Regions from separate parts of the Homo sapiens genome. Here region 1 is linked to region 2. Evidence: fine-mapped expression QTL. A gene starts in region 2. The other region holds a variant in brackets. All regions are shown on one strand. Distances are from middle to middle. Region 1 overlaps AP1G1 (adaptor related protein complex 1 subunit gamma 1). Region 2 holds the start of AP1G1 (adaptor related protein complex 1 subunit gamma 1).

Evidence for each region. PIP is the estimated chance that this variant, and not a neighbour inherited with it, causes the effect. A credible set is the group of variants that fine-mapping cannot tell apart.
Region 1: its variant is the best candidate, but not a certain one, in a credible set for the expression of AP1G1 in whole blood (TOPMed, PIP 0.72).

What each region holds. Positions count from the first base shown.
Region 1 is chr16:71,732,617-71,748,700 of GRCh38, reverse strand. It overlaps AP1G1 (adaptor related protein complex 1 subunit gamma 1), which reads left to right. Exons shown (of 23, transcript NM_001128.6): 16 at 323-450; 17 at 2,009-2,113; 18 at 3,087-3,228; 19 at 3,431-3,557; 20 at 9,360-9,467; 21 at 9,599-9,759; 22 at 13,994-14,092; 23 at 15,542-16,084. The coding sequence ends at 15,643. Among named protein-coding and RNA genes, the nearest start is that of PHLPP2, 16 kb to the right of the region's middle. The variant C/T (reference allele first, on the strand shown) is at 9,809.
Region 2 is chr16:71,803,072-71,819,155 of GRCh38, reverse strand. It overlaps AP1G1 (adaptor related protein complex 1 subunit gamma 1), which reads left to right and starts at 10,322. Exons shown (of 23, transcript NM_001128.6): 1 at 10,322-10,393. It overlaps LOC124903714 (a long non-coding RNA gene), which reads right to left and starts at 10,198. Exons shown (of 2, transcript XR_007065110.1): 1 at 9,954-10,198; 2 at 798-1,094. RefSeq lists enhancers at 809-858, 9,271-9,350, 9,911-10,600, 10,544-11,191.

The DNA.
Region 1 (16,084 bases), 70 kb after region 2:
TTGAACTCTGTATGTTTTTCTTTTCTTCTTCTGTTTCTGCCACTTGAAGCTCTAATATTGCCTCTCAGCCCCAGTGGTCATTTTTCACTCTTTTTACCCCCACCTGCTCTGGTTGATAGAACCAGAGCACTTTTTTTTACCCCCAACTACTCTGGTTGATAGAACAGCTTGGACAGTTACCCTGGCAAAGCACAGGTTGAGTTAGAGGCTTTTGTAACGGTAGGATTGTCTTTCTGGCTGCTTCCCCTGACTTGATATCAGATTTAGATGCTTAATCATGCTACTCATTCTTCATCGTCTTCTTTTTCCTCCTCCTCCTCAGGTAACAGAGGATGAAGTGTTGGATATTTTAGAAAGTGTCCTAATCTCTAATATGTCCACCTCTGTGACACGAGGTTATGCCCTCACTGCCATTATGAAGCTTTCCACTCGATTCACTTGTACTGTAAAGTGAGTATTGAAGAAACATAGGGTGAACAGGTTGTTTTGTAATTAAAAAACAAAAAAAATCCCAAAAAACTTGTTATCATGGAAAATTTCAAGCATAGACAAAAGTAGAGAGAATAATAACACAAATTTCCATTACTTATTTCTCCACAGTCACAGTGATCAATTTGTGGTTAATCTTTATTCATCAGCACTTTGTTCCCTCTCATTCTTTTACTCCCTTGTGGATTATTTTGAAGCAGAAAAGTTTAGGGGGTTTTGTTTGTTTGTTGAGACAGGGTCTCGCTCTCTTACCCAGGATGGGGTGCAGTGGCGCCATCATATTTTACTGCAACCTTGAACTCCTGGGCTTAAGGGATCTTCCTGTCTCAGCCTCCAGAGGAGCTGGGACTATAAGTGCACACCATCGTGCCTGGCTAATTTTTACATTTTTTTGTAGAGAAAGTGTTTCGTTTGTTTGCCCAGGCTGGTCTCAAACTCCTGGGCTCAAGTGATCCTCCTGCCCTGACCTCCCAAAGTGCAGGGATTACAGATGTGACCCACTCCACCTGGCCTAAAAGTTACGTTTTTAGAATGAGATTTCTAATACCTTTTTTTTTTCTTTTTAAGTTGAGAATCTACTTCCCCATATAAAGGTTTTGGTTTATTTGTATTTTATATTTCATTTTATTTTATGACAGAATCTTGCTCTGTTGCCAGGCTGGAGTGCAGTGGCATACAATCTCGGCTCACTGCAATCTCCATCTCCAGGGTTCAAGCAATTCTCCTGCCTCAGCCTCCTGAGTAGCTGGGATTACAGGCGCACACCACCATGCCTGGCTAATTTTTGTATTTTTTGGTGGAGATGGGGTTTCACCATTTTGGCCAGACTGGTCTCGAACTCCTGACCTTGTAATCTGGCCAAGGTTTTGGTTTATTATATTTTGACAAGTCTTAATAGGAATAAAATCATGAATGTTTTGGTGATTAAATCTTTTAATTCTCCTCTTTGCTTTTTTGAATAAAGTAGATTCTCAGGTCACTTTCCCACCCAAGCATATTTAAGGCCAACGTAGTTCTTGTAGTCTTTCTGCTTCACTTTTAAATGTGAAGTCTTATAAAAAATGGTATTGAATTACTTTTAAAATTCTGAACTGGAAGAATTTGGGGTCAACATTTTGAGGCTCTGACCCTTTTATAGATTAAAAATTATTTAAAAATTATCAAAGAAGAGAATGAACAGTACAAATTTCTTTTGTGGCAAAGTAATAGTTGGTACTTTTGTCTAGCAAAGTTTAGGGAGTGGCATATATATATGTGTTTTTTCCACACCATCATTGTTGCTGAATGGGGATGGCATATTTAACAGACAAAAATCTAGTGTTACAATGAGAATAGTATAATGCGAATGTCAGATAAATGGATGAAAGTAAAGTGTTTTGTTTTTGAAAAACTATATAAATTAAGAAAAAATGAGTATTTCAGTATTTTAACCAGAAAATTCTGGCTTATTAAACATTATCTCTGCTTATTTGTGAATTTTCTTTTGGGTATTTTATTTCGTTTGTCATTTTATCTATAGCCGAATTAAGAAAGTGGTTTCCATCTACGGAAGCAGCATTGATGTGGAACTCCAGCAGAGGGCAGTAGAATATAATGCACTTTTCAAGAAATATGACCACATGAGGTGAGCGAAAGAAACTAAGCAATGCGTGTATCTCTTAGCATCCTGACTAAATTGTCATGGTAATCCATAAAGAAGATTCATTCCTTGTGCTTTATTAATTGTTCCTCGTATCCCTATTTAGTTCTAATTGCTTGTCTGCTTCTGTTTTGTCCATCTTCTATTCTGCCTAGTCTCTAAAGAAATAAATTAACTCTCTTTCATTCCACCTCCAACACTTACACTTTTTTTGATATGGAAAGTTTGCTTTATTTTCTATTTTATTTAGTTAAGAAGTGGGAGGCCGGGCGTGGTGGCTCACGCCTGTAATCCCAGCACTTTGGGAGGCCGAGGCGGGCAGATCACGAGGTCAAGAGATCGAGACCATCCTGGCCAACATGGTGAAACCCCGTCTCTACTAAAAATACAAAAAAATTAGTTGGGCATGGTGGCGCATGCCTGTATTCCCAGCTACTCGAGAGGCTGAAGCAGGAGAATCATTTGAACCTGGGAGGCGGATGTTTCAGTGAGCCAAGATCATGCCACTGCACTCCAGCCTGGCGACAGAGCAAGACTCTGTCTCAAAAAAAAAAGAAGTGGGAGTTGTATTTTTTCAAGACAAATAATCTCATTCAAATTCTTTTACTGTTAACATTCTAGTGTTTGGGTCATCTTTTATTCTTCTATTATACAGTATCTTCTTGACTGTTAATACCTATGGATTTACCTTTCTTTCATCTCAGTCTCTCTACCACTGAAATATATGCTTTGGGATTTAGCTGGGCAGTCTGTTTATTCAAGATTTTTTTGTCTGCCCTTAATCCAGCCAGGAATTTAGGTCATGTATTCTTGTAATCTACCTTCTATTTTAGTGTGTGTGTTGGATGGGGAGGGGAGATAGATCTCCATGCTTGGGCTCAACATAGTTAATGGTGATTATTTTGGGTAGGGAATCTAGGTTAACTGCCTAGAATTTAACCACTTCAGATTCTTCTAGGTCTGCCCTACTTGAGAGAATGCCTGTCATGGAAAAAGTGACCACAAATGGCCCTACTGAGATTGTGCAGACAAATGGAGAGACAGAACCAGCTCCACTAGAGACCAAACCGCCACCCTCTGGGCCACAGCCCACCAGCCAGGTAGCCAGCCTTTCACTTGCTCATCTGGGGCTTCTTACGATTTTATAGTCCCTTACAGCTTGTCTCTTAGCTGAGTCCCTTTAATGTTCCTGGGTTGGTTGATGATTTCCTTCCTTATTTTTACATATTGAAAGAGCTTTGCATTAGATGTATACTAGACAAATCAAATAATAATGAATTGAGGTGTTGTTACCTTGTTTAGGCCAATGATTTATTGGATTTGTTGGGAGGAAATGACATAACACCTGTTATTCCAACTGCGCCTACAAGCAAACCATCTTCTGCTGGTGGAGAACTTCTTGATTTGCTGGGAGACATCAACCTTACAGGTGAGGCAGTCTGGAGCTATTTAATACCTGGGAAAAGATAGAGGCCTCAGGGAAAAACTAAACTGAACCCAGACTTTCCAGCACGTGAATCATTTGAAGATGGGAGAGGCTAAATCAGAAGCAAGAGTCAAATCTTCACAATATCCGGGTTATATGTTGTATACTAATAATGCTCTAAAGATAATTTATACGGATTTCTTAAAGGCAAACTCCTAATTTTGGGTGAATAAATTATTCATAGTGTTTTAAGATAGAAACTACTTTTCCTGGCTGGGCGCAGTGGCTCATGCCTGTAATCCCAGCACTTTGGGAGGCAGAGGCAGGTGGATCACCTGAGGTCAGGAGTTCTAGACCAGCCTGGCCAACATGGTGAAACGCCATCTCTACTAAAAATACAACAATTAGCCGGGTGAAGTGGTGCATGCCTATAATCCCAGCTACTCCGGAGGCTGAGGCAGGAGAATCGCTTGAACCTGAGAGACGGAGGTTGCAGTGAGCCGAGATCGCGCCAGTGTGTACTGCAGCCTGGGTGACAGAGCAAGACTCTGTCTCCAAAAAAAAAAAAAAAAAAACACACTTTCTCTTTCAAGCTCAAAAAATATATCCCGTATCACCTTTGCTTTTAGTGTCCCAAGACATGACTTCTTCTTGGTTCCTTCCCACTAATGGTTAGTTTTCAGTAGCTGTGGCCATTTGTGGAGAGATGTTAACCTGCTACTTACCTCTTCCCTTTCACACTTTCTGTAATTAAAGCAACTGAAGGGCAATCACTCATAATATTCAAACATAACTTTTCATTTGGGAATATTTTTTCTTCTGTTCATATATACCAGTCATTTGTAATTGACATGTTCAGCAATATGATAAACCCGAGTCCAATACAACTTTTATTTTTATTTTGAGATGGAGTCTTGCTCTGTTGCACAGGCTGGAGTGCAGTGGCACGATCTCGACTCACTGCAACCTCCGCCTCCCGGGTTCAAGCGATTCTTCTGCCTCAGCCTCCTGAGTAGCTGGGATCACAGGCACGCACCACCATGCCCTGGCTAATTTTCGTATTTTTAGTAGAGATGGGGTTTCTCCATGTTCGTCAGGCTGGTCCTGAACTCCTGACCTCATGATCCCCCTGCCTCGGCCTCCCAAAGTGCTGGGATTACAGGCGTGAGCCACTTCGCCTGGCCTTTTTTTTTTTTTTTTTGAGACAGAGTCTCACTCTGTCACCCAGGCTGGAGTGCAGTAGCATGATCTCGGCTCACTGCAGCCTCTGCAACCTGGGTTCAAGCAGGTCTCCTGCCTCAGCCTCCTGAATAGCTGGGATTACAGGCGCCTGCTACTGCGCCTGGCTAATTTTTGTAGTTTTAGGAGAGACAGGGTTTCACCATGTAGGCCAGGTTGGTCCCGACCTCGTGATCCACCCACCTCAGCCTCCCAAAGTGCTGGGATTACAGGTGTGAGCCACCACGCCTGGCCTACAACTTCTATCCTAAATTTCAGTGTAAAGTATAGCTGAAAGGTTAAAGTGTCTTTTTTTTTTTTTTTTTGAGACAGAGTCTCACTCTGTCAGCCAGGCTGGAGTGCAGTGGGATTATCTCGGCTCACTTCAACCTCTGCCTCCTGCGTTCAAGTGAGCCTCCTGCCTCAGCCTCCTGAGTAGCTGGGATTATAGGCGAATGCCACCATGCCCGGCTAATTTTTTGTATTTTTAGTAGAGACGGGGTTTTGCTGTCTTCTTTAAGAGGATAATGAAGAGTTAAAGCACACATGACCTTGAGTAAAAAATAGACATAGGATAACAAGTTGGATGGTTAGCTAAGCTCATTCCCACAGGCTGATTTTTTTTTTTCCTAATACAGTGGAGTCACAGAGTATAGGATTTATGTCTGTGTCTTAACAAAATTTCAAAATGTTACTTGTCATGTACTTATGAATCATTTACAAATGGTCAATTTCAAATCCTCAAATGTCAAAGCTGTACTGGATAACCGGCAAAGAAAAAACAACCCCACAGTTAAACCATAGCATATACTTCACCTAATATGTTAGTATTTCCATGTTAATATATATAGCCTTCATAATTATAATTTTAGGTGACTAATACTTTATCAACAAATTTGCTCTGTTTACTCAGTTCGTTAGTATTGGGTAGTTTGGCTTTTTTTTTTGGTTTTTTTGAAACGGAATCTTGCTTTGTTGCCCGGGCTGGAGTGCAACAGCACGATCTCGGCTCACTGCAACCTCTGCCTCCCGGGTTCAAGTGATTCTCCTGCCTCAGCCTCCCGAGTAGCTGGGATTTATAGGCACGTGCCACCATGCCCAGCTAATTTTTGTATTTTTTTATTAGAGATGGGGTTTCACCATGTTGGCCAGGCTGGTCTTGAACTCCTGACCTCAAATGATCCTCCCGCCTTGGCCTCCCAAAGTGCTGGGATTACAGGCATGAGTCACCGCACCCAGCCAGTATGGGGTATTTTGTTTCTAGATTTTTCTTACCTAGCGGCCTCAACAAATATTACATCAATTTGTTCTTATTTTAGATTAATTTGTTAGACTAAGTGACTTAGTCTTTCTGAATCTGGTTAAAATTAGGATGATTAATACTTACTCCATAAGATATTTGTGAGGCCCATTGACCTATTCAGTGCATGATACATAGTAGGCACTTGGTAAATATTATTTACCTTTTCCTCAATTTATATGTTTAACCGCACAGTCATAAGCATTGTATATTATCATTTTAAAAAGCCCTATTGGGTGAAAATTTGGTCCTATTATATTTTATTTTTATTATTATTTTTTAAATTTTGTAGCCCTCTGCCAGGCTTGGTCAGCAGAGAGAGGCCCTATTATTTTTTGATCACAGAGAATGTTTAATATTTATTCACATATTTGTATTATAGATGAGGTTCCTTTCTGAACATTCCTGTATCCTTAGCTCATTTATTGTGGAGTCTTTTCTTTTTGTTCCTACTGTCTTGTTTTCCTAGTGTTATATGTTAAAGCAAAATGATAAAATGTTAAAAAGTCTGGGTTTTCTTGCCTTATTCATAATGTGTTTTAAAGATGTTTTTCCACTTTTTACATTAAGTTTTAAAATTTTGAATTCTAGATTTCTTAATTTATCATTACAGTTTTACCCCATTATATAGAAATTTAAGTCAGTAGAAATTCAGAATAGATTTAACATGTGTTTTTAAAGGGTTTGGAGCAGTAAGTTTCTGCTCTTCTCCTAAACTACCTTGCTATACTTTTACAGGACAAAGAAAAGTGAAAATTTGAGGGAGTTGGGGACCTATATGCTGCCTGTATCTTGAGTAGCCTCTGATTTTCCATGAGAACACATTTCTAAAATTGTTTTGAAAATGGGAATTGGGGGAAATTTTCTCGATTTGATTTTTTAGACTAGGAGAACTGTATGAATATTTCTTTGTCTGCTTCATTGATAATCTGCTGGACTGCACAAATGGTGTTTGCATTTATTTTAGCTTCTCGTGCTTGCTTAGCCATCCGTATTTCTATTCTCTTTGCTAATTTTTAATATGTCATTTACTTGTTTTTGTTTTTGAGATGGTGTCTTGCTCTGTCACCCAGGCTGGAGTGCAATGGTGTGATCTTGGCTCACTGCAACCTTTGCCTCCCAGATTCAAGCGATTCTCCTGCCTCAGCCTCCCGAGTGGCTGGGACTATAGGCGCGTGCCACCACACCCGGCTAATTTTTGTATTTTTAGTAGAGATAGGGTTTCGCTGTGTTGGCCAGGCTGGTCTCAAACTCCTGACCTCAGGTGATCCACCCGCCTCGACCTCCCAAAGTGCTGGGATTACAGGCATGAGCCATCGCGCCCAGCCTGTCATTTACTTTTCTAGTATTCTTTAGTATCTTTTTTCCCCCTCATTCTTGCTGTCAATTTCTTAAAAAAAGATGATATTCTAGCCTTCCTTTATTTCATTGTGATAGTTCTTTTTTAAATGGCATATTTTCAGTTAATTTCACAAGTAGTTTGAAATCTATTTAAATATTAAATACATTCTCTTAATTTTACTGAATTTCCTTATGCTTCTTCTTCGAATCTTGATATCCCTCATGTTCTATGAATTATCTTCTATTGTATGATTGTCAAGTTGTTCTTATTTGGAAAGATTAAATAAGAATGGTAATCTATTTCTTTTTCCCACCCCACTTTATACCACCCCTCACAGGGTGCGTGTGTGTGTGTGAAAATTTTATTATACAGCATTTAACATCTACAAAATTTAATGAATGTTTTGATCTACCTAGTTTGTAAAATAAAATATTAAGAGGGTTGATGTTCTTTGTGTATTTCCCTCTCATCCCATTTCTTTTTGATTCCAGACGTAACTACTGTCTATCCTAAAGTAGTGTTTAACATTGGTGTTTGCCATTCCTGTGCATTTCTTGATATAGTATGTAGTATTATTTTGCCAATTTTTACCTTTTTAGACAAGGTATCCAACTGAATGTGTTCTTTTTTGCACCTTTTTTTGCTAAACATTGTAATTGTGAGAATGAGTTATGAATAATCCATGTTAAGTGTATTTCTAGTGAATTCACTTTTTACTGTTGTACATGTGTAGTATTTTAGTATATCAATATATCAGTTTACTTATTCATTATCAAGATGACAGACATTTTGGTTGTTTCCAGTATTTCACCATTAGGAGTGTTCCTGCTATGAATGCTTTTGGATGTATCTCCCAGTGAACACATGCAAGGATTAATTAAAAGCATTCCTAAGAAGGGGTAATCGGTTCTCAACTGGGGAAGATTTTGCCCTCCAGGGGTTGGCAGTGTCTGAAGATATTTTTGGTTGTTACAACTGGGAGGATGCTACCGTCTAATGCATAAAAGCCCAGGGGTGCTACTTAATATCCTACAATAAACAAGGCAGCCCCCTACAACAAAGAATTAGGAAGCCTAAAAGCTATTACTGTCAAGGTTGAGAAACCTCAGTTTAAGGATATACTGATGTTCAACTCTACTGTTGCCAAATTACTCTCTAGATTGGTTGTGCCAGTTTACCTTCCTATAGCAGAGCTTAAAATTTCCCATCGTTCCATCTTCTTGCCAACATCTGGAATTATCAGACATCGAAATTTTCACCATTCTGGTAGACATGAGGTAGTATCTCACTATAATTTTAAATTCCACTTCCATCATTACTGGTAAAATTGAGCATCTGTTTGTAAGATTCCCTTTTCATTCAGGTTTCCTCTTTTGTGACTTGCGTGTTTTTATATCTTGACACTTTTAAATTGGGTTATCTGTTTCTTATTGGTTTTATAGAAGACAGTTATCGTTTGGATACTTATCCATTCATTACTGTATAGCAAACATTTTCTCCTGTCTGTGGGCTCTCTCTCTTTACTTTTTTTTTTTTTTTTGCGACAGAGTCTCGCTCTGTCCCCCAGGCTGGAGTACAGTGGTGCAAGCTCACTGTAGCCTCAACTTTCCAGGCTCCAGTGATCCTCCCACTGCAGTCTCCCAAGTAGCTGGGACTACAGGCGCACACCACCATGCCTGGCTAATTTTTGTATTTTTTTTTGTAGAGACAGGGTCTCGCCATGTTGCTCAGACTGTACTTTTTCTTACAGTATTTTTTAATAAACAGAAGTTGCTCGTTTTAAAGTACTTGAGTTTTTAGTTCTTTCTCTTTGTGGTCTATGCTTTTTGCATCTTGTTTAAGGAATCTTTCCTTAACCTGAGACCGAAATAATTTTCCCTATAATTTCTTGGTAAGCTTTGTCATGCTGCCTAAGGTTAACTTTCCATTAAAATATTTCCTTTAGGTGCTCCAGCTGCTGCTCCTGCCCCTGCCTCAGTCCCACAGATATCCCAGCCCCCCTTCTTGTTGGATGGGCTTTCATCACAGCCTCTCTTCAATGATATTGCTGCAGGTACGATGACTGTTGTTACCATCATTACATGGAGCACTGAGTAATGAGATGTGGTTATTAAGAAAAAGAAGTAATAATTCTGCAAGCATTAGGCTGACTACAATAAGACTTATCTTCCTGTACTTTCTCAGGCATCCCCTCCATCACAGCATACAGTAAGAATGGCTTGAAGATAGAATTCACCTTTGAACGGTCAAATACCAACCCCAGTGTAACAGTGATAACGATACAGGCCTCCAACAGCACAGAGCTAGATATGACGGACTTTGTTTTCCAAGCTGCAGTACCAAAGGTACTACAATGTCTTCTTTAGATGTTTCCTTTGATTAAAGATTGGCTGG[C/T]TTTTTTTTTTCATGTGTTTGGTAAAGGATATGTTTTAATGTTTACAGATTAAATTTGTAGACTTAATTCAAACTAACAATAATGTAGCTTATGGTTCATGGAAGCATATCATTTTTAGTGAATAATTTTTACTAGGTTACAAGTATTCTGATGGTTAGCATTGTAGGATAAAGAAAAACAATTCTAATAGTAGTGAGAGCAGAATTCTACGAGGTGATCAGTTAATGCTCAGGGCATTGAGGATAGGTTAGGCTTTAGTAATACAGTGTTAAAGACCTAAAAACATAAAATATGGCATAGGATTAAAGTTAAGTAAGATGAGAGACTTTGTCTATCTGGTATTATCTTCTAGTTAACCAGATCAGAATTGAAATTTTTTCTCTCTTGATACATAAATGAGAGAAACATTCCTCCTTCGTTAACATCCAATTTATTATAGATACAGTAACTGTTTTTGTGAATCAAGGTTTGGTTTACACCAAATTTTAGTTTAAGGATATTTATGTTCATTTATGAATAGTGAAAAATCTTGAGGCCGGGTGCAGTGGCTCACGGCTGTAATCCCAGTACTTTGGGAGGCTGAGGCAGGCAGATCACTTGAGATCAGGAGTTCGAGAACCTGGCCAACATGGTGAAACTCCCGTCTCTACTAAAAGTACAAAAAAAAAAAAAAATTAGCCGGGCGTGATGGCAGGTTCCTCTAATCCCAGTTACTCGGGAGGCTGATGAGGCAGGAGAATTGCTTGAACCCAGGAGGCTGAGGATGCAGTGAGCTCAGATTATGCCACTGCACTCCAGCCTGGGTGACAGAGCGAGACTCCATCTCAAAACAAACAAACAAAGAGTTCTAAATAAAGAAAAGTTGAGAATGAGGAGTGGGTAGTTTTTCTTAAAAAGATGAGACAGTAAGTATTTTAGGCTGCTATCTGGTCTTTATTGGTACTCAGTTCTGCTCTTATAGTACAGAAACAGCTGTAGATGACATGTAAATGAATGAACATAGTTCTGTTCCAATAAAATGTTATTTGCAAAATCAGATGTTGGGCGATTCTTGGCCAGTGGGCCATAGTTTGCCAACCACTGGTTTAGACTAAGCTAACCTAATCTTGGCAGTGGCATGTGAAATATGGCATTTAGACATTCCGACAACACACTTGGACTTGGAAATTGAGGATGTTTTCTTTGTTTGTGGGTACTGCTGACTTTGCAGTCTTTTTTTATTTTTTCCCCATCCTCTGACTCTCATGCAACCCTCTTTGCTTACACTTTGTAGGAGCCAGAATAATTTAGATGTTTAAGAAGCAGTTAGCTGGACACGGTATCTCACGCCTGTAATCCCAGCAATTTGGGAGGCTGAGGCGGGTGGATCGCTTGAGCTCAGGAGTTTGAGACCAGCCTCAGCAACATGGTGAAACACCATCTTTACCAAAAATACAAAAAATTAGCCAGGTGCAATGGTGCGTGCCTGTGGTCCCAGCTACTCAGGAGGCTGAGGTGGGAGACTCACTTGAACCCAGGAGGTGGAAGTTGCAGTTAGCCAAGATCATGCCACTGCACTTTAGCCTGGGTGATAGAGTGAGACGCTGTCCAAAAAAAAGAAGAAAAAAAAGGGGAGCAGTAGTGTCAATTGGTGAAAGACCACTAATGAACTCTAGAGCCATTCTGTTTGGATTTTAGTAGTAGTTGTATGACATGAAGAAAGTCACTGAACCTCTATGCCTCAGTGTCTTCATTTGCAAAGAGGGTGGTGATAATGATAGCCACTTCCTAAGGTTGCTTAAAGGAATAAATAAGTTTTTTGAATCAGGCACTGTTTGAAGCACTTTTCATCTGTTCAGTGCTCAGTATATTTAGTTTCTTCAACTTAGGTTTTATACTTGTTACTTTAGGCTGCTGCTCTAGTGACTTATCACTTCTGCTATTAAAACATGACATTTTTGGTGGTGTACTGTACAGTGCAACATGATAATGTATTTTCAACTTAAAATGTCATATTTTGCTGGGCGCGGTGGCTCACGCCTGTAATCCCAGCACTTTGGGAGGCCGAGGCAGGCGGATCCCACGAGGTCAGGAGATTGAGACCATCCTGGCTAACACGGTGAAACCCCGTCTCTACTAAAAAAAAAAAAAAAAAAAAAATTAGCCGGGCGTGGTGGCGGGCGCCTGTAGTGTCAGCTACTTGGGAGGCTGAGGCGGGAGAATGGCGTGAGCCCGGGAGGTGGAGCTTGCAGTGAGCCGAGATCACCCCACTGGACTCCAGCCTGGGCAACAGAGCGAGACTCGTCTCAAAAAATAAATAAATAAATAAATAAATAAATAAATAAATAAATAAATAAATAATAAATTAGCCGGGCGTGGTGGCGGGCGCCTGTAGTCCCAGCTACTCAGGAGGCTGAGGCAGGAGAATGGCATGAACCTGGGAGATGGAGCTTGCAGTGAGCCGAGATCGCACCACTGCACTCCAGCCTGGGCGACAGAGCGAGACTCCATCTAAAAAAAAAAAAAAAGTCATATTTTATAGGTTCTACTATGTACTAATTTCGTGTTTTAATGTTTCTAAAATTAGGATACATTTAAAAATTGGTATCTTGTCATAATTCAGTGGGCAGCATGTTTTCTATCTCAGTGGTACATAAAATAATGGTGTGAATTACGATTGGTATCTTACATTTAATGAAATATGGTAGTAATGAATAATACTTTAGCTTACATAATTTTAATGTGGCAGAATTATGAATAAGACCATATATATATATATATATATATATATATATTTTTTTTTTTTTTTTTTTTGAGATGGAGTCTCACTCTGTCACCCAGGCAACCTCTGCCTCCTGGGTTCAAGCAAATCTCTTGCCTCAGCCTCCTGAGTAGCTGGGATTACAGGCATGCGCCACCATACCCAGCTAATTTTTGTATTTTTAGTAGAGATGGGGTTTTGCCATGTTGACCAGACTAATCTAGATCTCCTGACCTCAGGTGATCTGCCCGCCTTGGCCTCCCAAAGTGCTGGGAATACCGTGCCCAGCCCCCAGTGTAATATATCTGTACATTGAGAGTGAATCTTCACTCTTGCAACTTTTGGCCCTAGAGAAGACTAGTGTCTCTCTCTCTCAAATATTTTAGAAGTTTAATCTACTTTTAGGAAAGATTTTCAAATGCTAGTTCATACAATAGCTACGTAGTACAGTATGGTTTACCTAGCTTGCCCTATATAGCACTTTTTTTTTTTTTTTGAGACGGAGTCTTGCTCTGTTGCCCAGGCTGGAGTGCAGTGGCACAGTCTCGGCTCACCACAACCTCCTGGGTTCAAGCGATTCTCCTGCCTCAGCCTCCCGAGTAGCTGGGACTACAGGCATGTGCCACCATGCCCAGCTAATTTTTGTATTTTTAGTAGAGACGGGGTTTCACTGTGTTGGCCAGGCTGGTCTCGAACTCCTGACCTCGTGATCCGCTCGCCTTGACCTCCCAAAGTGCTGGGATTACAGGCTTGAGCCACCACACCCAGCCAGCACTTTCAACTCTTATTTCTATAAGCAAGCAAATAAACCCCACCAGCATTCAACAAATTAATACTGTTTGGCTTATCTAGGTCTTTTGCTGTATAGGCTGGTTCTGCAAGTCTTTCCGTTCCTTCTGTCATGTGGAGAGGAGGCTCTGACACATTATAGATTATGCAGGCTTTAAAAAACAAAAGTTCAAGTCTCTGCATCCCAGTTATCCAATCACACAAAAGCCTAAAAGCTTATAGTTGGTGACCAGTATGTTGGTTTGCTATTTTTGGGAAGCTTTTCTTTTCATTTCTTTCTGGCTGTTTTTTAAGCCAAAAGCACCGATATTTTACTTGCATAGTTGATCAGTTACCATTAAGTGAAGTTGCCAGAAGAAGAATTGGTCAGCTTTTGAAAAGAGGTAGGCTAGAATTCCTTCTGCCAGAAAGGAGAATGTGGTTTATTACTAGTTGTCATGATCAAAGAACCGAACAGTGGATTTTTACAAATACCACAGGGAGTCAACTCACGTGCTGTGAATTCCTGATATCTAGAAAACAAGTAGTAGGCAAAACTTAGTAGTAGTGAAATCTGTTGCTTGACCCATCATCTGGGTGTCTAAATGGTTTTTGGTATCTCTGACCTAGCGTTGTGTAATTCTTTTTCTGAAGAGTGCCCTTTGTTCCCCCCTAGACATTCCAGCTGCAGCTCTTGTCTCCTAGCAGCAGCATTGTCCCAGCATTTAACACGGGGACCATCACACAAGTCATTAAAGTTCTGAACCCTCAGAAGGTGAGTAGCACATTTGTAGCCAATATCTGAGCCGAAGTGTAAGCATATTTCCCGAAATAAAATTCTGCTTTGTTTCTTTAGGTTTTTCTGACTCATAGTTAGAGAAGAGATCAATGAAAATGCCTGGTCTAACTTCCTTGCTCTTTTGTAAATAACAAATGGAACCCAGAGACATCAGGTGGCTTAGTGGCATCTTATTAAAATGCAACTTCAAAAAAAGCTAGATTAAAGGTCTGGTTTTTGGGGGTAGGGGAGAAGCTTAGACATTTTAATTTATACACAAGTTGAAATCTGAGGTAAGAGCATTTGTTGAAACCAAATACCTACATTTACTGCTACAGTTATTAAGTATGAATAGAAAAATAGAGGCATTTTAAATGAAGCAGCCAAATGAAAAATAGCTTTAGAAACTGAAATTAAGCAATATTTTTATTATCTCTTCTCAAAGAAATAAGCTCACCTTAATAGTAATCAGTTGGTTTTCAGTTTTTGAAAATGGTTCAGAGAATTTCTTTAATAGAGCTCTACTAGTTGCTCATAAGTAACAGTATACTTTCTTTCTCTTGTAACACTTGCCTTTCCTCTGCTATTCACTATATTTTGAGCATCGGCCTCTATAGTACAAGCACAAACTCCTTTGACCATCTGATACAGAGAGTAAAAAATGTCTTAGTGCATTTGTATTTGAAATCTGCCATACAAAAAGTGTCTAATTGAGTTCTCTTAAAACTACTGCTGTTACCTGTGAGTTAAGTCATTTTTTAAAATTTTATGCTTTAGGAACAAAAGGTCATGTTCACATTTACTGTAGGTTTTTCAGATAAAGCAACAGTGTATCTGAATGGAGAGCGTACGATGAGTATATGTTCACCTCATTTTTTAAGAGACTTGGATACAAGGTTTGAATCTTTTTGAAAAGGACTCAGCAAAATGTTACTAGGAGAATGCTCCATGGTGGCTCACGCCTGTAATGCCAGCATTTTAGGAGGCTGAGGTGGGTGTATTATCTGAGGTCAGGAGTTGAAGACCAGCCTGGCCAACATGGTGAAACCCCGTCTCTACTAAAAATAAAAATATTAGTCTGGTGTGGCGGTGAGCCAAGATTGTGCCACTGCACTCCAGCCTGGGCAATAAGAACAAAACCCTGTTTCAAAAGAAAAGAAAAGAAAAAATGCTCCCAAGGAGTTCTGTCCTTTTAATGCAGTTCAAGGATTAAAGCTAACCGTGTATTCTGCAGATGCGCTTTCTCAACTTGGTGGCATGACATTGTTAGCTTCTTGGCTCAAGCCTAGAGTACTGGGTGTTTTTTGTTGTTGTTTACCTGTCATTCTTAACAGACAGCTTTGCTTTAAGTTTTGACCTCTAAGATTAAAAGTCTATTTGTGGACCGGACAGATTCTGGAGATTTCATTTCAGTATATAATTTGCACTTCTCTTTTCCTCTTATAGCAACAGCTGCGAATGCGGATCAAGCTTACATATAATCACAAGGGCTCAGCAATGCAAGATCTAGCAGAGGTGAACAACTTTCCCCCTCAGTCCTGGCAATGAGGGTTTGGCACCATTCTCATTCTTTATCCCACTCAATCAAAGGAACTCTGGGAAGGAGGTTGTGATTGCTGGCAAGTCCCCCCCAACTGTACCACGGGCATGAGGAGCTGAAGAGAACTGCTGAGGAGGATTTTCCTAAAGTTACTGCTGACCTTGAAGCATTGTTAAAGACTAATGTCCTCTCCTCCACTGTTGAGGCTGGCTGCTTCTGGAGGCTACTTTGCACTCTTCCTCTTCTCCTTTTTCCGCACTTCTCCACCCCTCCCACATTTACAGCCAGAATCAACATTCCCTGGGCCCCTGAGGAAATAAGCAGCTGGTCTGGAGGAGAGGACTGCAATCCATGGCGAAAAAACACTCACTTTGTCTCTGCAGCAAAGAGTTGCCCCTTCTTTCTACTGTTGTTTCTCTGTGGACTGGGCAAGGTGGGGTATTTATTCC
Region 2 (16,084 bases):
AATGGTGCGCGATCTCCGCTCACTGCAAGTTCCGCCTCCCGGGTTCACACCATTCTCCTGCCTCAGCCTCCCGAGTAGCTGGGACTACAGGCACCCGCCACCACGCCCGGCTAATTTTTTTTTTGCATTTTTAGTGGAGACGGGGTTTCACCGTGTTAGCCAGGATGGTGTTGATCTCCTGACCTTGTGATCCACCCGCCTTGGCCTCCCAAAGTGCTGGGATTAGGGGTATGAGCCACCGCGCCCGGCCCCATTTTTCTTTTCAATATACTTTATTTTTAAGTTTCGTTTTAGGCTCATACCCAAAAGCCAAATTAATTTTTAGATGTAATTATTGGTTATGCAAAATTTTTGGTTCAGAATTCTCTTTTACATATCCGGGGGAGTTTACATTCCTCCTTTTGCATATGAGAAGGTGATACCTATAAACCAATGACTCTTTAAAAACCCGGTTTGGGGCCGGGCGCGGTGGCTCACGCCTGTAATCCCAGCATTTTGGGAGGCCATGGCGGGCGGATCAGGAGGACAGGAGTTGGAGACCAGCCTGACCAACATGGTGAAACCCTGTCTCTACTAAAAATACAAAAAAATTAGCCAGGCGTGGTGGCACGCGCCTGTAATCCCAGCTACTCAGGAGGCTGAGACAGGAGAATAGCTTGAACCCGGGAGGCAGAGGTTGCAGTGAGCCGAGATTGCAACACTGCACTCCAGCCTGTGTGCCAGAGCGAGACTCCATCTCAAAAAAAAAAAAAAAAAAAAAAAAAAATCAGTTTCATTTTGAATGCTTCATTCTAAGATTTTCCACTCCTCATAAAAGACAAGTTTATTTAAAGAATATGGAGTTAGAGAGAAGATCTTTAGGTCCAGGGCCAGCGACCCGCTTGCATAGCAAACTGCTTGCCTCTCCTTAGAAGTAAGACACCTCACTCTTGGCACATACTTGGGTCCTAGACCATCAGCTGGCATGTGTGGACGGCTTGGCGAAGGAGTTTGTTGTTCCCTGAGTTGGCCTCCAGGGACTGGCTGCCCCAGTTACTGCAGATGTCTTAACACTTCTTGGACGTCCCAGGCTAATTTTAAAGCAACTCATAGAACTGATTTTGGAAGAACAAGTATGAGACTTTGCAATGAAAGGAAAACAAAACAATTTACTATAGATTTTTCTAGACAAATGACGGTGCCCACATTTATACATATTTTCGAGATGAGGTTTCACTATGCTGTCCTAGCTGGTCTCAAACTCCTGGGCTCAAGGGTTTTTCCTGCCTCATCCTCCTGAGTAGCTGGTACTACATGTATGAGCCACTGCTCCTGGCTTAATGGTGTCCATATTAAGGAAATAAAATTACTTGAGTAGAAAACAATGGGTCAGAAATCCTGCTTTGTTTCTAGATGGTGCATTCTCTTCTAGTGACCTTAATTTTGTCATTCCTAACAGGAGAATGGCACCATTTCCTCAATTTGGAATTTAAGTTGATTGCAGTCTCATACCTGGTAAAGTTTTTCCCTCCAAAAGTGCCAAAATAATACAGAATAATTTACAAGTCAAGAAAAACTACTCTAAGAAAAAGAAAATATTGTAACATAAAGCATCTCAGGTGGCACTTTGGGCTGCCTCTTTTTTTTTTTTTTTTTTTTTTTGAGATGGAGTCTCACTCTATTGCCCAGGCTGGAGTGCAGTGGTACAGTCTCGGCTCACTGCAACCTCCACCTCCCGGTTTCAGGTGATTATCCTGGCTCAGCCTCCCAAGTAGCTGGGATTACCGGTGCCTGCAACCACGCCTGGCTAATTTTTGTATTTTTAGAAGAGACAGGGTTTCGCCATGTGGGCCAGGCTGGTCTTGAACTCCTGACCTCAGGTGATCCACCTGCCTTGGCTTCCCAAAGTGCTGGATTACAGACACGAGCCACCGCGCCCGGCCTAGGGCTGCCTCTTTAAAAAAAAAAAATTCTGAAACAAAGAAGAAGGTTGGCAGAAGCTAATGTCCTCCGGGCTTTGGTCTTTACTCTTCTACATATAGCAGAATTCCTAATGCTCTTGGTAAGAGGTCAAAGAGTGTATGGAGTTGGCTGTTGGAATTTTAATTTTTACATCCTTTCTGGCTTTTGTCATAAGTTAAAGATGAATTCCTAAACTCTTGTCTCAGGCCAGCATACATCGTGATTAGGGACTGTGCTTTAAAAGAATTGTGAAAATGCTTTTTGTGAAAACATTACAGAAACAGCAGACAGACTAATTTCTCTCTGTCTTTCAGTCTTATTTATAGATTCGTGTGACTCAAAGGATAACAAAACAGGCCAGTGGAGCCGCCTCTTTGACTCACGTCATTGTATTTCTTACACGGCTGTGCCCCTCTTCACTCTCCTTTCTCGGCTGAGATCTCTGGCACGTGGAGAGGCAGGAAGGGTTCTTTGTGAAAGATGCTAACTGCATTTCTTCAGAGAGAGCTTTCCCCATCTGCTCTAAAGGTCACATGGGCTTCAGCTGCTGATACTGACCGAATCATTTAAGAAACTCACTGTGCCGGATGAGGTGGCTCAAGTCTGTAATCCTAGCACTTTGGGAGGCTGAGGTGGGAGGATCACGAGGTCAGGAGTTCGAGACCAGCCTGGCCAACATGATGAAACCCCATCTCTACTAAAAATACAAAAATTAGCTGGGTGCAGTGGCATACCCCTGTAGTCCTAGCTACTCAGGAGGCTGAGGCAGGAGAATCACTTGAATCCAGGAGGTGGAGGTTGCAGTCAGCCGAGATTGTGTCACTGCACTCCAGCCTGGGCAACATAGCGAGACCCTTTTTTTTTTGTCTCCAAAAAAAAAAAAAAAAAAAAAGAAAGAAAGAAACTCACTGCATCCTAAGCCCAAACAAGACAGTTCCCCTCTAGTACCCCAGATTCCACCAGATACTATGTATTCCAAAAGCCATCTTTCACTGCTCTAGCTCCCAGCAACCTCTCCTTCTTCTGCTCCTTCTGAACTAGAACTTCAGCGACCTCTCCGTTTTCTTCTCTTTCTGAACTAGGACTTATCTGCTGAATGATATCACTGGCTTATTTTATATTTTTGGATTTTTAAAAAATCTCGTTTTCCTCAATGAGATTGTAATTATCTGAAGGATAGGGGCAGTCTCTTTTGTTATGTCTATTACAGATTCTGGTGCACCCAGGACAGTGTGGCATAGGGGAAATAATCAGGTAGCCTGTTTGAATGATTACTATATGGGCTAGAAGACAAATCCAGAGATGGAAGGACTACATTTGAGTCTGGCCTCTACTGTATGAAAGTGTGACCGATCATTTAATCTCTCTGAGCCTCTCCTCCCCTCCCCTCCTCCTTTTGTTTCTCTCTCTCTCTCACTCTTTCTTTTTTTAATATATTTTTTGAGACAGAGTCCTATTCTGCCACTCAGACTGGAGTGCAGTGGTGCAATCATTGCTCACTGCAGCCTTACCTTTCTGGTGTCAAAAAATCCTGCCTTAGCCTTCTGAGTAGCTGGGACTACAGGCACATGCCATGATGTCCAACTAATTAATTTTTTTTTTTTTGAGACAGCATCTCACTTTGTCACCTAGGATGGAATGCAGTGGCGCGATCTTGGCTCACTGCAACCTCTGTCTCATGGGTTCAAGCAATTCTCCTGCCTCAGCCTCCTGAGTAGCTGGGATTACTGGTGCGTGCCACCATGCCCGGCTAATTTTTGTGTTTTTAGTAGAGACAAGGTTTCACCATGTTGGCCAGGCTGGTCTCGAACTCCTGACCTCAAGTGATCCACCCACCTTGGCCTCCCAAAGTGCTGGGATTACAGGCATGAGCCACTGCGCCCAGCCTGAAAATACTTTTGTAAATGTAAGACACACTGTACTACTGTTACTTATAAAGGGCAGTCAGTAAATGCTTTAGTTGAATGATGAGGCGGCACAAAAATTTCAGTATTTACATTCTTATGATGCTTCAGGCTTTTCAAAGTGCTTTCATGTAGCTGATCCCTTTTGCATAACAAGCCACTCTAAATCCATTTTGGAACAGGCAAGACAAATAAATATTGGAAAGCTGAGTAAACAGGCTCAGAGATGTTTAACACCTTGCTCTGGGCAAAAAATGAATTAAACCTAGCCAAGACTGGCATCTAAGTGGTCTGTCTGCTAGCCAATGTTTCTTCAGTTTTATTTTTTGTTGTTGTTCTTTGTTAAATTGTTGTTATTATTATTATTTACTTATTTATTTTCGAGATGGAGTCTTGCTCTATCGCCCAGGCTGGAGTGCAGTGGCGCGATCTTGGCTAACTGCGACTTCTGTGATTTTCAAGTGATTTTCCTGCCTCAGCCTCCCGAGTAGCTGGGATTACAGGTGTACGCCACCATGCCTGGCTAATTTTTGTATTTTTAGTAGAGATGGGGTTTTGCCATGTTGGGAAGGCTGGTTTTGAACTCCTGACCTCAGGTGATCTGCCTGCCTCAGCCTCCCAAAGTAATCATGTTGGGATTACAGGTGTGAGCCACCGTGCCCGGCCTATTCATTGTTAAATTGAAGCAGTCCTCGGTAGTAAACAAAACCATAAAAATAATAATCTTTGGCCAAGCACAGTGGCTCATGCCTGTAATTCCAGCACTTGGGGAGGGTGAGGTGGGAGGATCACTTGAGCCCAAGAATTCCAGACCAGCTTGGCTAACATAGCAAAACCCCGTCTCTACAAAAAAAAAAAAAAAATTAGCTGGGTATGGTGGTATGCACCTGTAGTCCCGGCTGAGGTGGGAGGATCACTTGAGCTCGGGAAGTCGAGGCTGCAGTGAGCTGTGATTGTGCCACTGCACCCCAGCCTGGGCAACAGAGCAACACCTTGTCTCAAAAAAAAAAAAACCAAAATTTTTTTCCTAGTTATTATCTCTTACTAAGTTTGTTTAACACTTTCAGGATATTGTTGTTTTAAAAACAAAAATTGGCCAGGCACGGTAATACCAGCACTTTAGGAGGTGAAGGTGGGCAGATCACCTGAGGTCAGGAGTTCCAGACCAGCCTGGCCAACATGGTGAAACCCCATCTCTACTAAAAATACACAAATTAGCTGAGTGTGGTGGCAGGCACCTGTAATCCCAGCTACTCGAGAGGCTGAGGCATGACAATCTCTTGAACCTGGCAGGCAGAGGTTGCAGTGAGCTGAGATCACGCCACTGTACTCCAGCCTGGGCAACAGAGCAAGACTCTGTCTCAAAATAATAAATAAATAAAATAAAAACAAAAATCCATAAAACTGCATTTTCTTATAAGAATTTTCTTTTTAACTAAAAGAATGGTGTGCTCGTTGCAAAAACAAAATATAATATAATATAATAAAGTAAAAATTATCTGTAATCCCATCATCCAAAAAAGCCATTTTTTTGTTGTTGTTTGTTTTGTTTAAGACGGAGTCTCGCTCTGTCCCCCAGGCTGGAGTGCAGTGGTGCAATCTCTGCTCACTGCAAGCTCCGCCTCCTGGGTTCACACCATTCTCGTGCCTCAGCCTCCCGAGTAGCTGGGACTACAGGCGCCCACCACCACACCCGGCTAATTTTTTGTATTTTTAGTAGAGACGGGGTTGCACCATGTTAGCCAGGATGGTCTTGATCTCCTGACCTCATGATCTGCCTGCCTTGGCCTCCCAAAGTGCTGGGATTACAGGTGTGAGCCACTGCGCCCGGCCCAAAAAAGCCATTTTTAAATTTTAGTTTTGTCCTTCAATTTTTTTCTATGCATGTAAGTTATCAGTAGTAAACAAACCCATAAAAATAATAATCTTTGGCCAATGGCAGTGCCTCACGCCTGTAATTCCAGCACTTTGGGAGGGCAAAGTGGGAGGATCGCATGAGCCCATGAGTTCCAGACCAGCTTGGGTAACATGGCAAAACCGTGTCTCTACAAAAAATTTTTAAAAAAATTAGGCGGGCATGGTGGTATGCACCTGTAGTCCCAGCTACTCAGGAGCCTGAGGTGGCTCAATATACACTTTGCAAGCTCATTTTATAACATTGTTTTATAATATTTCCTTTTAAAGTCTGCCATACTATAATAATAAGGTTTTCATTTTATTGGTAGCATAGTATTACCTTTTATAGATGTGCTGTAATTTATTTATCTGGAATTAGGGATTATGTTTGAGAAGATGGGGAGTAAGCCTTTCTAAACTTAAATCACTAGCCATGGAAACCAAAGATTCCAAGATAATGTGACTATGCTACATATTGGGGCAATTGCTTTTATTTATTTATTTTATTCATTTATTTAAAAGATGAGGAGGCCGGGCATGGTGGCTCATGCCTGTAATCTCAGCCCTTTGGGAGGCCGAGGCAGGTGGATCACCTGAAGCCAGGAGTTCGAGACCAGCCTGGCCAACATGGAGAAACCCTGTCTCTACTAAAATATACAAAATTAGCTGGGCGTGGTGGCGCATGCCTGTAATCCCAGCTACTCAGGAGGCTGAGGCAGGAGAATTGCTTGAACCCGGGAGGTGGAGGCTGCAGTGAGCCGAGATTGTGCCATTGCACTCCAGCCTGGGCAACAAGAGTGAAACTCCGTGAAAGAAAGAAAGAAAGAAAGAGGGGCGGGGAGGGGGGAGGAAGGGAGGAAGGAAGGAAGGAAGAAAGATAGGGTCTCACTATGTTACCTGGGCTGTTCTCAAACTCCTTGGATCAAGTGATCCTCCCACCTTGGCCCCCCGAAGTGCTAGGATTACAGGTGTGAGCCACTGTGCCCAGCTGGGGCAACTGCTTTTAATTTTAGTTGCATGGAAGAAGGGTTTGGTAATTATAAATAAAGATAAATGGCCTGGGCGCGGTGGCTCACGTCTGTAATCCCAGCACTTTGGGAGGCTGAGGCGGGCAGATCATAAGGTCAAGAGATCAAGACCAGCCTGGCCAACATGATGAAACCCCGTCTGTACTAAAAATACAAAAATTAGCCGGATGTAGTGGCACGTGCCTGTAGTCCCAGCTACTCGGGAGGCTGAGGCAGGAGAACCACTTGAACTCGGGAGGTGGAGGTTGCAGCAAGCTGAGATCATGCCACTGCACTCCGGCCTGGCGACAGAGACTCTGTCTCAAAAACAAAAACAAAATAAAGAGAAATGTAAGTTAAAAAGTACTGAGAAAGGGTTTAGTTTTTAATGTTTAAAACTCTTTAACGCTCTGCACTCGATATGGTAGGAAAAAAGATCTTTCCGGGGCCGGGAGCGGTGGCTCACGCCTGTAATCCCAGTACTTTGGGAGGCCAAGGCGGGCGGATCACGAGGTCAGGAGATCAAGACCATCCTGGCTAACATGTGAAACCTCGTCTCTACTAAAAACACAAAAAACTAGCCAGGTGTGGTGGCGGGCGCCTGTAGTCCCAGCTGCTCTGGAGGCTGAGGCAGCAGAATGGCGTGAACTCAGGAGGCGGAGTTTGCAGTGAGTTGAGATCGTGCCACTGCACTCCAGCCTGGGGACAGAGTGAGACTCCGTCTCAAAAAAAAAAAAAGCTCTCTCCTCCTTAGGTAGCTGGCTTAATTTTTCTTTTGTGGTTCACAATGATACACATTTAAATTTGACCTCTAAGCATTTTTTTGTGGTGTTCCAAACGGAATACTTTAGCTAACTCTGCTTTGCAACCTGCAAACTTCTTACTTATGTGGAAACCCCAAACTAAGTTTGGCCTGTGTTCCCTGCATAGCTATACCTCAGAGGAAATTGTGTTTTGGCTTCATTCCACTATTTACTAGCCTTGTAGTCCATGGTTGCACTGTACAGTAGCAGCATGGCAGAGGATCTGAATTCTGTAAACATTCTGTTCTCTAAACCACTTGTTGGGGGTTGACTCCATCCACCCTGAGAGTGTAGGTATGTGTGTAGGTAGGTAGGTAGGTAGGTGGGTGGGTAGGTAGGGGTGGTGGAAGATTGTGGTACCCTATGCTAATTTATAAAATGGCACTCTGGCCTGGCATGGTGGCTCATGCCTGTAATCCCAGCACTTTGGGAGGCCGAGGTGGGTGAATCACCTGAGGTCAGGAGTTCGAGACCAGCTTGGGTAACATGGTGAAACCCCGTTTCTACTAAAAATACAAAAAATTAGCTGGGCGTGGTGGCATGCGCCTGTAGTCCCAGCTACTTGGGAGACTGAGGCAGGACAATCACTTGAACCTGGGAGGCGGAGGCTGCAGTGAGCCAAGATCACGCCATTGCACTCCAGCTCGGGCAACAAGAGTGAAACTCTGTCTCAAAAAAAAAGGCACTCTATAGCTCTGTAGCAGAACCCCAGTGGAGGAGGGGAGAGGATGTGTCTTTTAGCCAAGTTAGTTTCTTGGAGCCTCTTTTTCCTTATTTGTAAAACTAAGTTACTTATGCTTGCCTAGCCTGACTCAGGAGGTTGTCCAGAGGGTCAGATTAGATTATACACATGAAAGTGCCTTATGAACAATGTGATATCAATATTTAATAATACAAATGATAATTATTATCGCACCCATGGCCTCCTTTCTTTCCAGCCACTTGGCATGCCCCAGTAGTTCAGGGACAAAATTGTACAGATGGGCCTACTTGGTTCAATTTTTTTTTGTTTTTGTGAGACAGGGTCTCACTCTGTCGCCCAGACTCGGCTATCTGCAACCTCTGCCTCCCAGGTTCAAGCGATTCTCCTGTCTCAGCCTTCCGAGTAGCTGGGATTACAGGTGCCCACCACCATGCCCGGCTAATTTTGTATTTTTAGTGGAGATGGAGTTTCACCATGTTGGCCAGTCTGGTCTCGAACTCCTGACCTCAGGTGATCCGCCCACCCCGGCCTCCTAAAGTACTGGGATTACATGCGTCAGCCACTGTGCCCGGCCTACTTAGAGCAATTTTTGTTAAGTGTTTTGAAATCCCTGCATGAAAATGACTAAGGAAAAAAGTGCAACCTTCTCTCTATGACACCCAAATCCTAAACTCAAGATTTGTGGTTAGTTCTGGCCAGGCCGGTGGCTCACACCTGTCATCTCCACACTTTGGGAGGCCGACGCAGGCAGATCACCTGAGGTCAGGAGTTCAAGACCAGCCTGGCCAACATGGCGAAACCCTCTCTCTACTAAAAATGCAAATATTAGACGGCCGTGGTGGCGGGAGCCTGTAATCCCAGCTACTTGCGAGGCTGAAGCACGAGAAATTGCTTGACCCCGGGAGGCAAGGTTGTAGTGAGCCGGGATCCCGCCACTGCACTCCAGCCTGGGCAACAGAGCGAGACTTTGTCTCAAAAAAAAAAAAAAAATTTTTTTTGTGTGGTTGGTTCTGTTCTCTTTGGCACCCAGCCTGCTGCTGTGTTGTATTGTACTTTGTTGCCAATCTAGCAGAAGGATTTTAGTCTAGGTAGGTCACCTTTCCTTTAAACAGGCCAAGATATCAGGCCCTCTTTACATTCACATGGAAAAGACTCACGTCATATGTTAGTAATTATTTATCAGGTTAGGAACTGTCTGGTTAGACTTTCTTTGGCCCTGGTTATTAATTCATGGAGTCATAGACCGAAAGCCCATTCTGTAAGGGTTTCAGCTAACATGAGTCCAAGTCTTCTTTCTACATATGAGGAAATTGAATCCCTGGAGAGTTTAAGTGACTTGAGCAGTGCAAGCACCGCGGTACCGGGCGTGGAATCCATTCTTTTCAGTCATCCTCTTAACTCTTCATAAAATATGTTGCAAAGACACCATAAAACCATAGAATACCACCTGGAGCATGCTCCTTAAGTTATAAAGAAAGCAAAAATCTTAAAGGAGACAGCAAAGAGTTCGGGATTCCCGTGGACGAAGACCTTTTCAGCCCTGCTGTCTTCTCCGCCCCCACCTGTCTCGCTTGCTCTCACTTCCTGGGCTACCTGACTTAGCTCCGCCCCCTCCAGGTGGCTCCACCGCTTCCTGGTAGCCCAGCTCCACCCCCCCTACCCCCCCACCCCCCTACCCCCCACCCCCCTACCCCCTCACCAAGCGGAACCAATGTCCGTCCGCTACGGGGTAGGCCGGATCTTTCTCGCTCAGACTCATCGCAGCGGTGACTCGGCAGCAGCGTCTCGCGTCATCAGTGACAGCCCCGATCCTTGCTACGTTTGCGTCGCTCTGCCAGGAGCAGTCGCCTCCTCCTTGGCAAATAGTCCTCGGCAGGGTCCGAGTTCTTGGATAATTCGAGAGAAAAGGCACGATAAGTTGCAGTACGAGGACACGGAAACGACCAGGAGAGGAGGACAGGGAGCGAAGTTTCCTCAATAGTGTGTGAAGTTAGTTAAAAACTCCCTCCTTCCTCAGGATCCCTCCGCCTGCGGTAGCGGTGGTGAGGCCGAGGGAGCCGCCATTTTGGATGTTCGGTTCCTGCTGCCACTGCTGCCGCCGCCCCCGGAGCTGCTGGTTTCATTCGAGGTTTCGGGCCGGTGAGTGTCACTCCCGGCGCTGAGAGCATATTGCTGCTTTTGCCCCGCCGCTGCCGCGGGCGCTCGACCGGAAGCTTCCTTTCAGTTTCAGGGGTCCAGTCCCAGGCTGTGGGTGTTGAGAAGAGAAGACAGAGAAGCTGGGCCAGGAGAGGCCGGGAGCCCCAGGGGCTGCTCCGACTTCTGGAGGGCCGACCCCGAGGCCTCGGACCGGGAGGTTCCGCGCGCCGCGGCGTTCCGTGTTGTGGCGTTGCCCCGCCGGTACGGGCCTCCTTGAACCCTTGACTTTCTCAGGCTGCGATCTTTGAGGGCTCATTCAGGGAGCCTGGGGTTTAGCGGGGCGGGCCCCACCCCCGCGTGTCTTCTCTGAGCCACGTATCAGCGTTCTTGTGTCTTGTACCCGTGTCAGGTCTGTCAGATAACTCCCAGCATATCCAAATGCCCAGTTAATCGCTGCCTGCCCCTGCAGTGCCGTCCTCTCGGAACCGGACATCGGCCTCGCCTCTCTCTAACCTTCCGACCAACTTCTTTCCCAATTTTTCGTGTGTGTGTGTATATGTTGTTGTTTTGTTTTTTTCAACCTACCTGCGAGTATACTGTTTACCCTTTTCTCAGCTCCTGGCCCTGCGGACGTCAGCGTCTAATAATTCTCCCGGTCTTCCTGATTGCCTGAAAGAGTCGGGACGGTTCGGTTGATTGTGTTTCCCGGTTAGGACTCGGTGTAGGAGATCCATCGAACCACTCGCTCAGGGTAATGTTTATGAAGCAGATTATGTTTATGAAGCAGATTAAATGGCTTTTGGGAGGCAAGAGCTGTCAAATGTTTTCTCATATGTGGATTCCCTCCCTGTGCTGAATACTTAGCTTTTTGGTGCTTACTGACACTTGTGTGGTATTTTTTTTTCTCCCCTATTATATATCCCTGAGCACGGAAATCTGTCCATGGAGAAAAATATTAATCTGAGGTAGGTAGAAAGGAGAGTTGGGCTGCTTTACAGTGATTAGTTAACAGAAGGGAGGAGTTAGTGCTTTCTTAGTGACCTTAACTTTGAAGTGTTTGTACAGTAATGATCTTTGCTGACTGATTCTAAAAAATACTTGTAATGATTTCATGTATTGGGTTTTTCTGGGGATAGCTGAATTTTAAATATTCACTTCCACCGTTCCCTAGAATACTTGTCAAATACCTAACTTGTCACACACCCTAACTTTCACGTTTGAAAAATATGAACCCTCTAAGTACTCGTAATCTCGTCACTTTTATTCTAAAGGCATGTTTGCAGTCTAGCATGCTTGAATAAAAAGTATGTCTTTATTTTTATTTATTTATTTTTTGAGACGAAGTCTCCCTCTGTCTCCAGGCTGGAGTGCAGTGGCACGGTCTCGGCTCACTGCAACCTACGCCTCCCGGGTTCAAGCAGTTCTCCTGCCTCAGCCTCCCAAGTAGCTGGGACTACAGGCACACGCCGCCACGCCCGGCTAATTTTTTGTTGTTGTATTTTAGTAGAGATGGGGTTTCATCATGTTGCCCAGGCAGATCTCGAACTCCTGAGCTCAGGTAATCCGCCCGCCTCGGCCTCCCAAAGTGCTAGGATTACAGGCGTGAGCCACCGTGCCTGGCAAAAAGTATTTCACAGTTATTCACTGATACATTTCCTACGTTTCAAGTTAGGCGAGTGTGATTGAATCACCCTTATTTCATCTCAGCCTGGGTTTTCACATCTGCAAAAGAGAAATTAACTTATTTGAGATCACAGTCTAGTGGTTGAAGTTTAAATTTATAACTTGAATTGAGTCAAGCTTTTTAATATTGCTAAGCCACTTATAGATGCATTATTATTATCAGGTTATTGAAATGAGATTGTAGATAAATTCCTCTATAGGTCATATGATGTCTCAGAAGAAAACAATATTTTCAGTTTAAATACTCAGTGATCTTGTTATTTAAGCAGATTTTTCAAAAATATATTAGTTACTATTAGATACGTGAGTTCTGTATTACCCTGAAGCAATGGAATTTTCTCTTTTGGTTTAAAGGAACTGTCAAACACTGAACACCTATGTAATGCTCACTCATTTAGTAAGTATGCCCTCGCAGTTACTACTGAAATGTTCCATTTCTGACTTAGACTTTTCAAGTAAGGTGTTAGAAGAGCTATCACATAGATGTTAGTTAACTCAGTGTTTTTCATGCTTTAATATATTGGTATTTAAATGTCATTCAGGCGGGCGCTCAGTGGCTCATGCTTGTAATCCCAACACTTTGGGAGGTGGAAGGTGGATCCCTTGAGCCCAGGAGTTGGAGGCCAGCCTGGGCAACCTAATGAGACTCCGTCTCTACCAAAATATTTAAAAATATTAAACTTTTAAAAATTCATTCTTAGATAGTTTGCATTCACTGTAGAAAGGGTCCTTTTGCCTTAACAAATTCCTAGCAAAGTGTTGTTTAGTGCACCATTGATCAGTGCATATTTGAATGTCTGCTTTGCGTTTAGGAAACCTCCGTTTTCTTTTGGGGGCAGTTGCTTGTTCTTTGGTCTGACCTCTGTCATTGATAGCAGTTCTAGATTTGAGGGCAGATTTTAGAGTGAAACTTTAAAGTACAGAATTTGCCAGGAATGCCTTGGTGATATTTCACCCCAGTGTTTATTTAAAAAAGGAGTTTTAAAAATCAGTGGTATGCAAACAAAACCAACTTCTTTATGATTTATAAAAACTCTTTTTTTTTTTTTTTATTATTTTTATTGTTTGAGACAGGGTCTCACTCTGTTGCCCAGGCTGGAGTGCAGTGGTCTCAGCTCACTGCAGCCTGGACCTCCTGGACTCAAGCGATCCTCCTGCCTCAGCCCTCCACGTAGCTGGGACTACAGGCGTGTGCTACCACGCAGGGCTAATTTTTGTATTTTTTGTATAGATAGTGTTTTGTCATGTTGCCCAGGCTGGGCTCAAGCAATCCTCTTGCCTCGGCCTCGCAAAGTGCTGAGATTACAGGTGTGAGCCACCTCACCTGGCCAAAACTTTTAATTTATACAAATTTAAAAAGTTGAATGAGTATTTTCCAAGATATTATTTTTAATTAAAAAAATTGAATTGGCAATCTACATACCAAAACAGATTTTCCACAATGCTTAATCCCCTTATTTGCATTTGATGAGGATTTTAAAATTTTGTGTATATAGCAGGACTTAATTGCTATCAAAACTTTAAAACTCTTACTTAGAGCTTCAGAACATTTAAAAATACTGTTTTAGGTGTTTGTAATTTAGTCTGTCCTTGCTTTATGAATTGTTTTCAGTTCTTTTTTGTTTGTTTTTTGAGACAAAGTCTTACTCTGTCTCCCAGGCTGGAGTGCAGTGGCTCGATCTCGGCTCACTGTGCAACCTCCACCTCCTGGATTCCAGTGATTTCTGCTGCCTCAGCCTCCCGAGTAGCTGGGATTACAAGCGTGCGCCACCATGCCCAGCTAATTTTTGTATTTTTAGTAGAGGCGGGGTTTCACCATGTTGGCTAGGCTGGTCTCGAACTCCTGAGCTCAAGTGATCCACCCACCTTGGCCTCCCAAAGTGCTGGGATTACAGGCAGGAGGAGCCACTGCGTTCAGTCTGTTTTCGGTTCTTGATTTTGGCTTTCTTTATTCTCTGTTGCTTTTACTCAGTTTCTAATGCAGAATAATGTTGAAAGTAGCAAACAATTTTTTTTCAACTCCTCTCAGCTTATAAGTAACAAGCAATTTTATTTTTATTGATTGATTGATTGAGACAGGTTCTCACTCTTTCACCCAGGCTGGAGTGCAGTGGTGCAATCTCAGCTCACTGCAGCCTCGACCTCCTCCCAGGTTCAAGTGATCCTCCCACTTCAGCCTCCTAAGTAGCTGGGACTGTAGGCATGTGCCGCCTGATTTATTATTTTTTTGTGGAGACGGGGATTCGCCATGTTGCCCAGGCTGGTTTCAAATTCCTGGGCTCAAGAGGTCCTCCCACCTCTGTCTCCCAAAGTGCTGGTATTAAAGGTGTGTGCCACCATGCCTTGCCCACAAGCAATTTTAAACTTAAGAGAGCAGGCTGGTGCAGTGGTTCATGCCTGTAATCCCAGCACTTTGGGAGGCCGAGGCAGGCGGATCACTTGAGGTCAGGAGTTTGATACTAGCCTGGTCAACATGATGAAATCCCGTCTGTACTAAAAATACAAAAGTTAGCCGGGCATGGTGATGTGCACCTGCATTCCCAGCTACTTAGGAGGCTCAGGTGGGAGGATTGCTTGAACAGGGAGGTGGAGGTTGCAGTGAGCTGAGATCACGCCACTGCACTCCAGCCTGGGTGACAGATGGAGGCTCTGTCTCAAAAAAAAAAAAAAAAAATTAAGAGAGCATATAGAAATCTTTTGTATTTCTTGGCTTACAGGTTTTGAAATGATCTTTGTTGGCTGGGCGAGGTGGCTCATGCCTGTAATCCCAGCACTTTGGGAGGCCGAGGCGGGTGGATCACGAGGTCAGGAGATCGAGACCATCCTGGCCAACATGGTTAAACCCCATCTCTACAAAAAAATAGAAAAATTAGCTGGGCATGATGGTGCGCGCCTGTAGTCCCAGCTACTCGGGAGACTGAGGCAGGAGAATCACTTGAACCTGGGAGGTGGAGGTTGTGGTGAGCTGAGATCACGCCACTGCACTCCAGCCTGGGGACAGAGCGAGACTCTTGTCTCCAAAAAAAAAATAAATAAATAAAATATGTTTATCAAAATGTAGTAGCATTTTTACAGTTGCCTTTTTGTATAGAAAATTTTATTTCAATGAGGTCAAGAAATAGAAAAGGGAAAAGAGGTGTCTTTTTTTTTTTTTTTTTTGAGACGGAGTCCTCCTCTGTTGCCCAGGCTGGAGTGCATCGGAGCCATCTCTGCTTACTGCAACCTCCGCCCCCTGGTTCAAGCAATTCTTCTGCCTCAGCCTCCCGAGTAGCTGGGACTACAGGTGTGCGCCACCATGCCTAGCTAATTTTTGTATTTTTAGTAGAGACAGGGCTTCACCCTGTTGACCAGGCTGATCTTGAATTCCTGGGCTCAAGTGATCCACCAGCCTTGGCCTCCCAAAGTGCTGGGATTACAGGCATGAATGAGGTGTCATTTTTACTTTGAAGATACGTGTTAAGTTTTTTTCTTCACTGACCTAGTAACACAATACACTTAATATGGCATGAGTTTTGGTTGCTGGAAAAACTGGTTAAAGTTTGAAGGGTCCAGAAGTGGGAGAAAAAAAACTCACTTGCCAAATGTGTTGAGTCAGCATTAACTAACACTTTAGCATAAAAGGGCAAGGTTTAGGATGAGATGATTGAAATGAGAAATGCTTTTTTTCACTAGGTACTTGGAAATTTTACTTTAAAAAAAAGCCTACTCAGACCATTGGAGAGATTTAATTAGTAAATCATAAATGTTGGCAACAAATTAAGTAGGTTTAGAAGGAAGAAGTCATTTTTTTAAAAGATGAGGAAAAAATACATGTGACTTTTGTAATTTATAAATAAAAACATCTTATTATTTATTTATTTATTCTTTTTGAGACAGAGTCTCACTCTGTCACCCAGGCTGGAGTGCAGTGGTGCCATCTCAGCTTACTACAGCCTCTACCTCCTGGGTTCCCGCGATTCTTGTGCTCAGCCTCCCGAGTAGCTGGGACTGCAGGCGTGCACCACTGTACCT